2 separate regions of the Homo sapiens genome follow, and region 2 is linked to region 1. A link means that fine-mapping ties the variant in region 1 to the expression of a gene that starts in the linked region. Tissue or cell type: testis. Region 1 holds a variant in brackets; the other region holds the start of a gene. All regions are shown on one strand. Distances are between the middles of the regions.

Region 1 (5,145 bases):
CTCGTGCCCGCCCTATAGGGGTTCGGTGCAAAGGTGGGTGAGTGAATGTGGTAGGGGGGTGGGAGCACTGAGGAGAGAGACTGCAGGGGGAGTGTGTTCCTGGCCGTAACACAAGCTCAACCCATGTTATACAGTGGAACACTCCCCTTCTCTCTGCTCAGAATCCTCCCACAACTCCCAGCTCACGCAGAGCAAATGCCAAAATCCCACTGTAGCCCCCACAACCCGGCACAATCAGCCCCTTCCCTCACTACTCTCCTTCTCAGACCTCATCTCCTGCCCTGCCCGCCACCCTCCCCCCACTCCTGGCTCTCCCACTAATCCCACTCCAGCCACGCCAGCCCCCTTGCTGTCTCTTAACCCAGCAAGTACATTCCTGCCTCAGGGCCTTTGCACTTGCCCTTCCCTCTGCCTGGAATGCTCTCCCTCTCACAGCCACATAGCTGCCTCTCATGCCTGTTTCAAGTCTTGTTTTGTTTTGAGACAGTCTCCCTGTGTCGCCCAGGCTGGAGTGGAATGGCACAATCTCAGCTCACTGCAACCTCTGCCTCCCAGGTTCAAGCGATTTTCCTGCCTCAGCCTCCCTAGTAGCTGGGATTACAGGCATGCACCACCACGCCCAGCTAATTTTTTTGTATTTTTAGTAGAGATGGTGTTTTACCATGTTGGCCAGGCTGGTCTCAAACTCCTGGCCTCATGTGATCTGCCCACCTCGGCCTCCCAAAGTGCTGGGATTACAGGTGTGAGCCACCATGCCCTGCCTCAAGTCTTGACTCAAATGTCACCTCAGTGCGACCTTCGCTGATTGCCCCATTTAAAACAGAAGCTCTGACTGGGTGCGGTGGCTCACGCCTGTAATCCCAGCACTTGGGAGGCCAAGGTGGGCGGATCACTTGAGGTCAGGAGTTTGAGACCAGCCTGGCCAATATGGCAAAACCCCGTCTCTACTAAAATTACAAAAATTAGCCAGGTGTGGCAGCACACACCTGTACTCCCAGCTACTCTGGAGGCTGAGGCAGGAGAATTGCCTGTACCCAGGGGGCTGAGGTTGCAGTGAGCCAAGATCGCACCATTGCACTGCAGCCTGGGTGACAGAGCGAGACTTCCCTCTCAAAAAACAAAAAAACAGAAGCCCCTAGACCAAACCCCCCTCCCGACTCCCTGCTATTTTTCTCCAAAGCACTTACTGCCACCTGCCATGCTATAGCGGTTGCCACCACGCCACCATGCTAATTTTTGTATTTTTAGTAGAGACGGGGTTTCACCATGTCGGCCAGGATGGTCTCGATCTCTTGACCTCGTGATCTGCCCACCTTGGCCTCCCAAAGTGCTGGGATTATAGGTGTGAGCTACCTCGCCCTGCCTATTTATTTGTATTTCTGGTAGAGACAGGGTCTCACTATGTTGCCCAGGCTGGTCTTGAACTCCTGGGCTCAAGCGATCCTCCTGACTTGGCCTCCCAAAGTGTTGGGATTACAGATGTAAGCCACCACACCCAGCTTGCTATCTTAAATATACAGACTTTATAGCAACAGCAAACACATTCTCAGGACTCACTGTGCCAGGTGCTTGAGAGTATCGGCTCGTTTAATTCTCACTGCAATCCTATGAGATGGGTTGTAGATTCATTTTACAGGTGAGGAAGATGAGACCAGCAAGTGGCAAAGCCCATTGCGAATCTACGGTCTTAGTCTATAAACCACTATGTATGTTTGCTTTTTTGTTTTTGTTAAATTGTTTTTGAGACAGAGTCTTGCTCTGTCACCCAGGCTGGGATTACAGGCATGAGCCACTGTGCCTGGCCTTATAAACCACTATGTATGTTTTGAGGGAGAGAGAGACACAGACAGAGAGAGCAGAAGCAAAAGAAACAGGGAGAGACTGAGAAAACAAGATAGGTGAGGGAGGAAGGAAAGGAGAGAGACTGGGACAGAGGGACAGAGGGAGAGACATCAGAACCAGCTAGAGATAGACTGTGCGTGGTGGCTCATGCCTGTAATCTTAGCACTTTGGGAAGCCAAGGCAGGCAGATCACTTGAGGTCAAGAGTTTGAGACCAGCCTGGCCAACATGGTGAAACCCCGTCTCTACTAAAAATACAAAAAATTAGCCAGGCGTGGTGGCAAGCGCCTGTAATTCCAGCTACTCGGGAGGCTGAGGCAGGAGAATCGCTTGAACGTGGGAGGCAGAGGTTGCAATGAAATGAGATCATGCCACTGTACTTCAGCCTGGGCGACAGAGTGAGACTCCGTCTCAAAAAAAAAAAAAAAAGGAGAGAAAAACAACCAGCTAGAGACATGAAGAGACAGGACACAGTGCTGTGCTCGCATGCCTGTGTGAGTGTGTGAACAGCTGTAGGCTTTTGAGGGAGTGTTTGTGTGTGTGTGTGCGCCGTGTGCATGAGTGTGCATGTGTATGTGAGCATCAGCCAGGGTGGGGACCCTGGGAGAATCACCAGGGCCCAGGCATTATGTGGGTTCCCT[C/A]ATGCCTTGCTCCATTTTTGGAGGTTCAGAAAACAGAGCTGGCCGGGCGTGGTGGCTCACACCTGTAATCCCAGCACTTTTGAAGGCTGAGGCAGGAGGATCGATTGAGCCCAGGAGTTCAAGACCAGCCTGGGCAACATAATGAGGCCTCTTCTCTACAAAAAATAAAAAACAATAAGCTGGGTGTGGTGGTGGGTGCCTGTAGTCCCAGGTACTTGGGAGGCTGAAGTGGGAGGATCGCTTGATCCCAGGAAGTTGAGGATGTAGTGAGCTGTGTTCACACCGTAGCACTCCAGCCTGGGAGACAGTGCAAGACCCTGTATCAAAAAAAAAAAAAAAAAAAAAGCCCTGCTGGGCACAGTGGCTCACACCTATAATCTCAGCACTTTGGGAGGCCAAGGCAGGCAGATCACAAGGTCAAGAGACCATCCTGGCCAACACGGTGAAACCCCATCTCTACTAAAAATGCAAAAATTAGCCGGGCATGGTGGCACGTGCCTGTAGCCCCAGCTACTCAGGAGAGTAGGCAGGAGAATCACTTGACTGGGAGGCAGAAGTTGCAGTGAGCCAAGATCGCGCCACTGCACCCTAGCCTGGCGACAGAGCGAGATTCCGTCTCAAAACAAACAAACAAAACCCAGCAACACATTAGACATGGTGGCTCTCACCTGTAATCCCAGCACTTTGGGAGGCTGTGAGGTGGGAGGATTGCTTGAGTTCAGCAGTTCAACACCAGCCTGGGCAATATAGTGAGACCCTATCTTTCAAAAAAAAAAAACCACAAAAAAACAAAAAAGAAAACTGGGCTGCTGTCAGGGTGAGAGAGCAGGTGCTGAGGCTGAGCTGAAGAGGGAATTAGACGCCCTCCCATGGATACCATCTTGGGGATATCTCCGAACTTCACATGCCCTGTGTCTACCCAGACTGCAGCCTCTCCCCCGACCCTCCCCCCGCCCCTGTCTCAGGGAGAGACCCACGGCCTGCCCATCTCCAGGGTCTCTGGTGTCCTCCAGATACCTCCCTTCCCTCCCCACAGGTGGTGGTCACTCACTTCATCCTATGAATTCTACCACTTGGATTCTCCTCTTCCCCTTCCTCACCCCCTTTCATCCCCTCCCTATCTCCACTTTCCCCTTTTTTCCAGCCTCCTCCATCATTTCTACCTCAGTCTCGTCTCCTCCCATCTCGGTAAAGCACAAATCTGACCCTCTCCCTCCCCAGCTCAAACTGGCCATGGCTGCCTAGTGCCCTCAGGAGAAAGCTGGGGCTTCTCCCCAAGCCCAGGAGGCCATGTGCAATCCAGCCCTGCCCCAGCCTCACCTCTCCCCTCCCTGTCTTATGCCTGGAATAAACCCCAATGCCAGCTTCAGGGTCGCACAGCTTCCCTCACCCCCAAAACACACACTTCGAAAGGCCCAATCTTGGTTTAATGCTCTTCTGTCACTGTCTTAAAGTTATTATTATTTTTTGTTTTGGGCAGGGGGAAAAAGAGTTTTGTTTTTGTTTCTGTTTGTTTTTTTGAGATAGAATCTTGCTCTGTCGCCCAGGCTGGAGTGCAATGGCATGATCATAGCTCATTGCAGCCTCAACCACCTGGGCTTACATGATCCTCTCACATCAGCCTCCTAAGTAGCTAGGACCACAGTGTGGGCCACCATGCCCAGCTAATTAAACAAACAAAAAAAAATTATAGAGAGGGAGTCTTACTATGTTGCCCTTGGCTCAAGCAATTCTTGAGCCTCAGCCTCCCAAAGTGCTGAGATTACAGGCATGAGCCACTGTGCCCAGCCCTTAATTAATTTATTTATTTATTTTTGAGACAGAGTTTTGCTCTTGTTGCTGAGGCTGGAGTGCAATGGCTTGATCTCAGCTCACTGCAACCTCCGCCTCCCAGGTTCAAGAGATTCTACTGCCTCAGCCTCCCGAGTAGCTGGGATTACAGGCGCCCACCATCACGCCTAGCTAATTTTTTGTATTTTTAGTAGAGATGGGGTTTCACCATGCTGGCCAGGCTAGTCTCGAACTCCTGACCTCAAGTGATCCACCCACCTCAGCCTCCCAAAGTGCTGGAATTACAGGTGTAAGCCACCATGCCTGGCCCCTTAATAATTTTCCAATGAGATCCGCCTGGCCAAAAGACGGTTTTTAAAATGGTGAACTCAATTCATTTGGTGCATTTGCAAGGTGCAATACTTTCCTTCATTTACCAGTGGAAGAAGTTAGAAATTAACTTCCCCCCAAAATCAGCAAATGGCAAACACATTTCCTTGAAAGTCACAGTCGCATATACAGTGCATTCTAGAAAAGAGGGGGCAAGACAGGTTCCACCCACTTTCACAAGTTTCGTCAAATACCGGATCTACTCAAGGGTGGAGAGAAAAGGCAACTTTCAAAAAGGAGGATGTTATTAACTGAGGCATTTACTATACTCCTTCCTAAGAGCTCCAGATGGGGAACATGTTTTCTCAACCAGACCTAGGAAGTGGAATGTGGAAGCAATCCGTCCTCCTTCCCTTAAGGGCTGTGCATAGTTAATGAATTTTAAAAATATGTCTTAAAGTTCTTACTTTTTCTCTTTTTTTTTTTTTTTTTTTTTGAGACGGGGCCTCCCTCTGTTACCCAGGCTGGAGTGCAGTATCATGATCATATTTCACTGCAGCCTG
Region 2 (5,145 bases), 310 kb after region 1:
TCCCACCTTCCTGGTTCAAGCAATTCCCCTGCCTCAGCCTCCCGACTAGCTGGGATTACAGGTGCACGCCACCATGCCTGCCTAATTTTTTTGTATTTTTAGTAGAGACAAGGTTTCACCATGTTGGTCAGACTGGTCTCGAACTCCTGACCTCAGGCAATCAGCCCACCTCGGCCTCCCTAAGTGCTGGGATTGCAAGCATGAGCCACCGTGCCCAGCCCAAGACCATCTTTTAAAATATGGCCTGGATGGGAGTCAGGGAAACTGTCCTTGAAGTCTGAGCACCTTGAGATCTAGCTGTGTGACCAGAGGGATGTTGTCAGCCTCTCCAGGACTTGTTTTTTTTTCAATCTGTTCATCTTGGACCATCTGCCAGGGCTCCACCCAAAAACACACCCCAGCTCTCCCGTGCCCTGGGAAGGGTTCTAACCGCATCTTGGCAGAAAGTTCACTCTGTTTGATGCGGCTGATGAGTTCCCGAGCCTTGTCCTCCAGTGTGTTTCCAAACTCCTTCAGCTTATCCAAGGCACTGGAGACGTCTGGGGTCCCCTGGGCTGGGGCTGGGCCTGCCAGGAAGATGGGCAGGGGTTCAAAATTTGTTTTTTTTTTTTTTTTTTTGGAGATGGAGTCTTGCTCTGTAGCCCAAGCTGGAGTGCAGTGGCATGATCTCGGCCTACTGCAACCACCACCTCCCGGGTTCAAGCAGTTCTCCTGCCTCAGCCTCCCAAGTAGCTGGGATTACAGGTGTGCACCACCACACCCAGCTATTTTTGTTTTGTTTTGTTTTGAGACGGAGTCTTGCTGTGTCAGCCAGGCTGGAGTGCAGTGGTATGATCTCGGCTCACTGCAACCTCCGCCTCCCGGGTTCAAGTGATTCTCCTGCCTCAGCCTCCCGAGTAGCTGGGCCTACAGGCGCGTGCCTCCACACCTGGCTAATTTTTTTGTATTTTTAGTAGAGACGAAGTTTCACCATGTTGGCCAGGCTGGTTTCGAACTCCTGACCTCAAGTGATCTGCCCGCCTCGGCCTCCCAAAGTGCTGGGATTACAGGCATGAGCCACCCTGCCCGGCCAAAAATTTGTTATTGGAACCCCCTTAGGTTGGGATACCGGGATGGATAGAGATCCTTGGGGATCATGTGGTTAGAATGGGGAGGAATGGCCGGACGCGGTGGCTCACGCCTGTAATCCCAGCACTTTGGGAGGTCGAGGCAGGCGGATCACAAAGTCAGGAGATCGAGACCACGGTGAAACCCTGTCTCTACTGAAAATACAAAAAATTAGCCGGGCGCGGTGGCGGGCGCCTGTAGTCCTGCTGAGGCAGGAGAATGGCGTGAACCAGGGAGGCGGAGCTTGCAGTGAGCCGAGATCGCGCCACTGCACTCCAGCCTCGGCGACAGAGCGAGACTCCGTCTCAAGAGAAAAAAAAAAAAAAAAAAAAAGAATGGGGAGGAATACTGGAGTGACCTGGTGGGGCTCAAGCTGCTGGGAATTGCCTTACTCAGCACTGACCTCTCCCAGAGCCCCCCACCCAGCTTACCCACTTTCAAGGCTGTCGAAGCAGGACAGCCAATCCCAGAGGTGTGGGCCTCAATACGTCATCGGTTGCTAGTGCTCTCCTGCGCAGATTTGGCGCCTGCGGGACTGAGCCTGGGAGAACCTGGAGACCCACCCGACCACGATGAGGCAACCACGACCCAGAAGGGGCCCCGGAGCTCTCAGAGGTCCTCTAAGCCGGGACCCCAGGCCTGTAGCCACCTTCACTCTTCCAAATCTCCAACTCCGCAATTCTCCCATCCCACTTTTACCTTCCAAGACGATCGACAGAACCACCACCAGGACCGGGAGCGACAGGAAGAGCCTCATGGCGAGGCCGGAGGGGCACTCTGGAGGCAGAGGCAGGGGTTCAGGGGATCAGTGGCACCCTCCTCCCTCCCTACCTCCCTCCCACGATCCCCTCATCTCCCTTTTTGAGTTTCTTGCAGAGTGTAGGCGGGTGTCCCTCCCAGGCACTCAGCACCAACCTGAATCCTTGCTGGAGGGCTTGGTTGGGAGGTCCTGTCCTGCCCGCAGGACCTTTATCAGGCTGGGGAGGGGGCGGGGCAGGTTGATGTTGATCTCCCTCCTCCTGAGCCTTCCCCTGACCGCCTGCCTCCCTCTGTCCACCCACGTTTTTCTCCTCTGCCCCTGTCCCGTGAGCGTTGGGGTCAGGTGGGGTCCCGGGCACTTCCCTTAGCCCCAAAGCCCCTCCCCGTTCAGCACTCTCACCTCTCAATCTTCCTGACTCTGTGGGGTCCTCAGACCACCTTAGTCCCTTTCCCCACTCAGAATGTAGCAGGAGGAGCCGCAGACAAAATTCCTCAGACGCTGAGTTAAGGAAGGGGTTTATTCGTTCGGGGAATGGGCAAGATTCCTGTCTCAAGAGCCGAGCTCCCCGAGTGAGCAATCCCTGTTCCTTTTAAGGGCTCACAACTCTAAGTGGGTGCACGTGAGAGGGTCGTGATCGATTGAACAAGCAGGGGATGCGTGACTGGGGGCTGCATGCACCGGTAATTAGATCGGAACAAAACAGAATAGGGATTTTCACAGTGCTTTTCTATACAATGTCTGTAATCTATAGATAACCTAACGGATTAGGTCAGGGGTCAATCTTTAACCACCAGGCCCAGGGTGTGGCGCGGGCTGTCTGCTTGTGGATTTCATTTCTGCCTTTTAGTTTTTACTTTTTCTTTCTTTGGAGGCAGAAATTGGGCATAAGACAATATGAGGGGTGGTCTCCTCCCTTAAGAAGACAGCCTTGTCCTGTCCCTGTGGCCATCTTCCCTCAGGGGTCTCCCAGTAATAACCCTGTGATCTCATCCCCCCCTCATTCACACCGTGTCCCTAGATCACCTCTTTCCCTCACTTCCCCTCTCTCAGCAAGCCTCCTCAGCCCCAACAACTTTTCCTTTATGTTGCTGGGTCTCCCAGTTGGCCCGGCGCTCCTACCCTGCGTGCCACCTCCAATTTATTCCAGACCAGCCCTTGAAGCACCCCAGACCACCGTGATATTCTCTGGGCTCTTAACTTCATGGTTCTCAGTCTCCCTTTTTTGGGAGGGGAACGGGTCGCCTTAGCTGGATGACACTGCAAAAACCTCACCTGCATTAGCCAGGCATGGTGGCTCATGCCTGTAATCCCAGCACTTTGGGAAGCTGAAGAGGGAGGATCACTTGAGCCTGGGAGTTCGAGACCAGCCTGGGCAATATAGGGAGACCTCATCTCTACAAAAAAGTTCAAAAATTAGCCGAGCGTGGTGGCGCATGCCTGTAGTCCCAGCTACTCAAGAGGCTGAGGTAGGAAGATTGCTTGAGCCCAGGAGTTCGAGGCTGCAGTGAGCTGTGATTGTGCCACTGCACTCCAGCCTGGTGGGACAGAGACCCCATCTCAAAAAATTAAAACCCTCAGCTGCAAAGCTCTGCGTGTATGTCCCTTCTTCCCTTCCACCGGGCCTCACCCCCTTTGGCTGGCTACCTCCCCCAAACACTCTATCTGCTTTTATTCACCCTCTGACGCCCCTCCTGGCACCAAGCCTGCTTCCCACCATCACTACATCCGTCCCCCAAGGCTGGAGTCCAATGCCTTCCCCACCAGCTGCCTTTGACCGCCAGTGACCCTGGCAGCTGGTGGGGAGGGTGTCCTCCGCCTAGCCTCAGACTCTAGGTTGGCTGGCCTTGTGCCCCCGCAACCACGTGTCAGCCTGGCAGTAGGGGGATGGTTGTGAAAAGGACAGCATAGACAAGACCCTGGCAGGATTGCAACATCCCTCTGGCCAGCTCAGAGCTTCCAGTCCCTGTCAGCCCCAGGGGCCCCCCTACTTCCCCAACTAAGCCCAGCACCCCCCAAACATCCACCCAGATGTCTGCTTCCCAGACCCCACAAGAATAGCATAACAATGCTCCTGCTTTTCCAACCTCATCCTCCCCTCTGCTATAGGGGTTTCTCTTTAATAGATGGGGAAACTGTCGCATAACCAAGAACATCCAGTAGGGCTCAGCGAGGGGCAAAGATGGGGGCTACTGGCTGGTTGCAGTGGCTCACGCCTGTATTCCCAGAACTTTGGGAGGCCAAGGTGGGCGGAGCACTTGAGGTCAGGAGTTCGAGACCTGCCTGGCCAACATGGTGAAACTCCGTCTCTACCAAAAATTCAAAAATTATCCAGGCATGGTGGTGTGCACCTGTGGTCCCAGCTACTCAGGAGGCTGAGGCAGGAGAGTCGTTTGAACCCATGAGGTGGAGGTTGCAGTGAGCCAAGATTGTGCCACTGCACTCCAGCTTGGGTGACAGAGTGAGACTCCGTCTCAAAAACATAAAAAAAATTTAAAAAAGGGGGCTCTTTGTCCTTCTCCTTCCCAGGCTCCAGGATGTCTCTGTGGATGGTTGCTGGGTCAGCTCCTGTCCCATACGACTCCCTGCCAGCCTTTGTTCTGGAACCTCCTTCCCATCCTTGTCCCACCTCTGGATCTGACTGGGGATGTGGTGAGATAGGGCACCCTGTCTGCTTAGACATCTTCATAGGTTGGTGGGGCGTGGTGGCTCACACCTGTAATCCAACTACTTTGGGAAGCTTTGGCAGGAGGATCTGCTTGAGCCCAAGAGTTTGAGATCAGCCTGGGCAACATAGTAAGACCCCATCTCTACAAAAAAGTTTAAAATATGGCCAGGCATGGTGGCTCACTCCTGTAATCCCAGTGCTTTGGGAGGCCGAGGCGGGTGGATCACCTGATGTCAGGAGTTTGAGACCAACCTGACCACCGTGGTGAAACCTCGTTTCTACTAAAAATACAAAAATTAGCCTGGTGTGGTGGTGTGCGCCTGTAATTCTAGCTACTCAGGAGGCTGAGGCAGGAGAATTGCTTGAACCCGGGGGGCAGAGGTTGCGGTGAGCCAAGATGGTGCCACTGCACTCCAGCCTGGGCGACAGAGTGAGACTCCATCTCAAAAAAGAAAGAATTAGCCAGGCATGGTGGTGGGTGCCTGTGGCCCCAGCTACTCAGGAGGTTGAGGCAGGAGGGTTGCTTGAGTTGGAGGCTGCAGTGATTGATGATCGTGCTACTGCACTCCAGCGTGGTCGACTGAGCAAGGCACTGTCTCAAAAAAAAAAAAAA

The links. PIP is the estimated chance that this variant, and not a neighbour inherited with it, causes the effect.
Region 2: it holds the start of APOC1, and the variant in region 1 is fine-mapped to the expression of APOC1 in testis (GTEx, PIP 0.94).

What each region holds. Positions count from the first base shown.
Region 1 is chr19:45,219,327-45,224,471 of GRCh38, reverse strand. The region is part of intron 8 of EXOC3L2 (exocyst complex component 3 like 2); the gene reads left to right. Among named protein-coding and RNA genes, the nearest start is that of EXOC3L2, 24 kb to the left of the region's middle. The variant C/A (reference allele first, on the strand shown) is at 2,483.
Region 2 is chr19:44,911,611-44,916,755 of GRCh38, reverse strand. APOC1 (apolipoprotein C1) reads right to left here and starts at 2,148. Exons shown (of 4, transcript NM_001645.5): 1 at 2,023-2,148; 2 at 1,807-1,884; 3 at 431-566. The coding sequence starts at 1,864. RefSeq lists enhancers at 1,077-1,834, 1,835-2,594, 3,353-4,112 and a promoter at 2,009-3,135.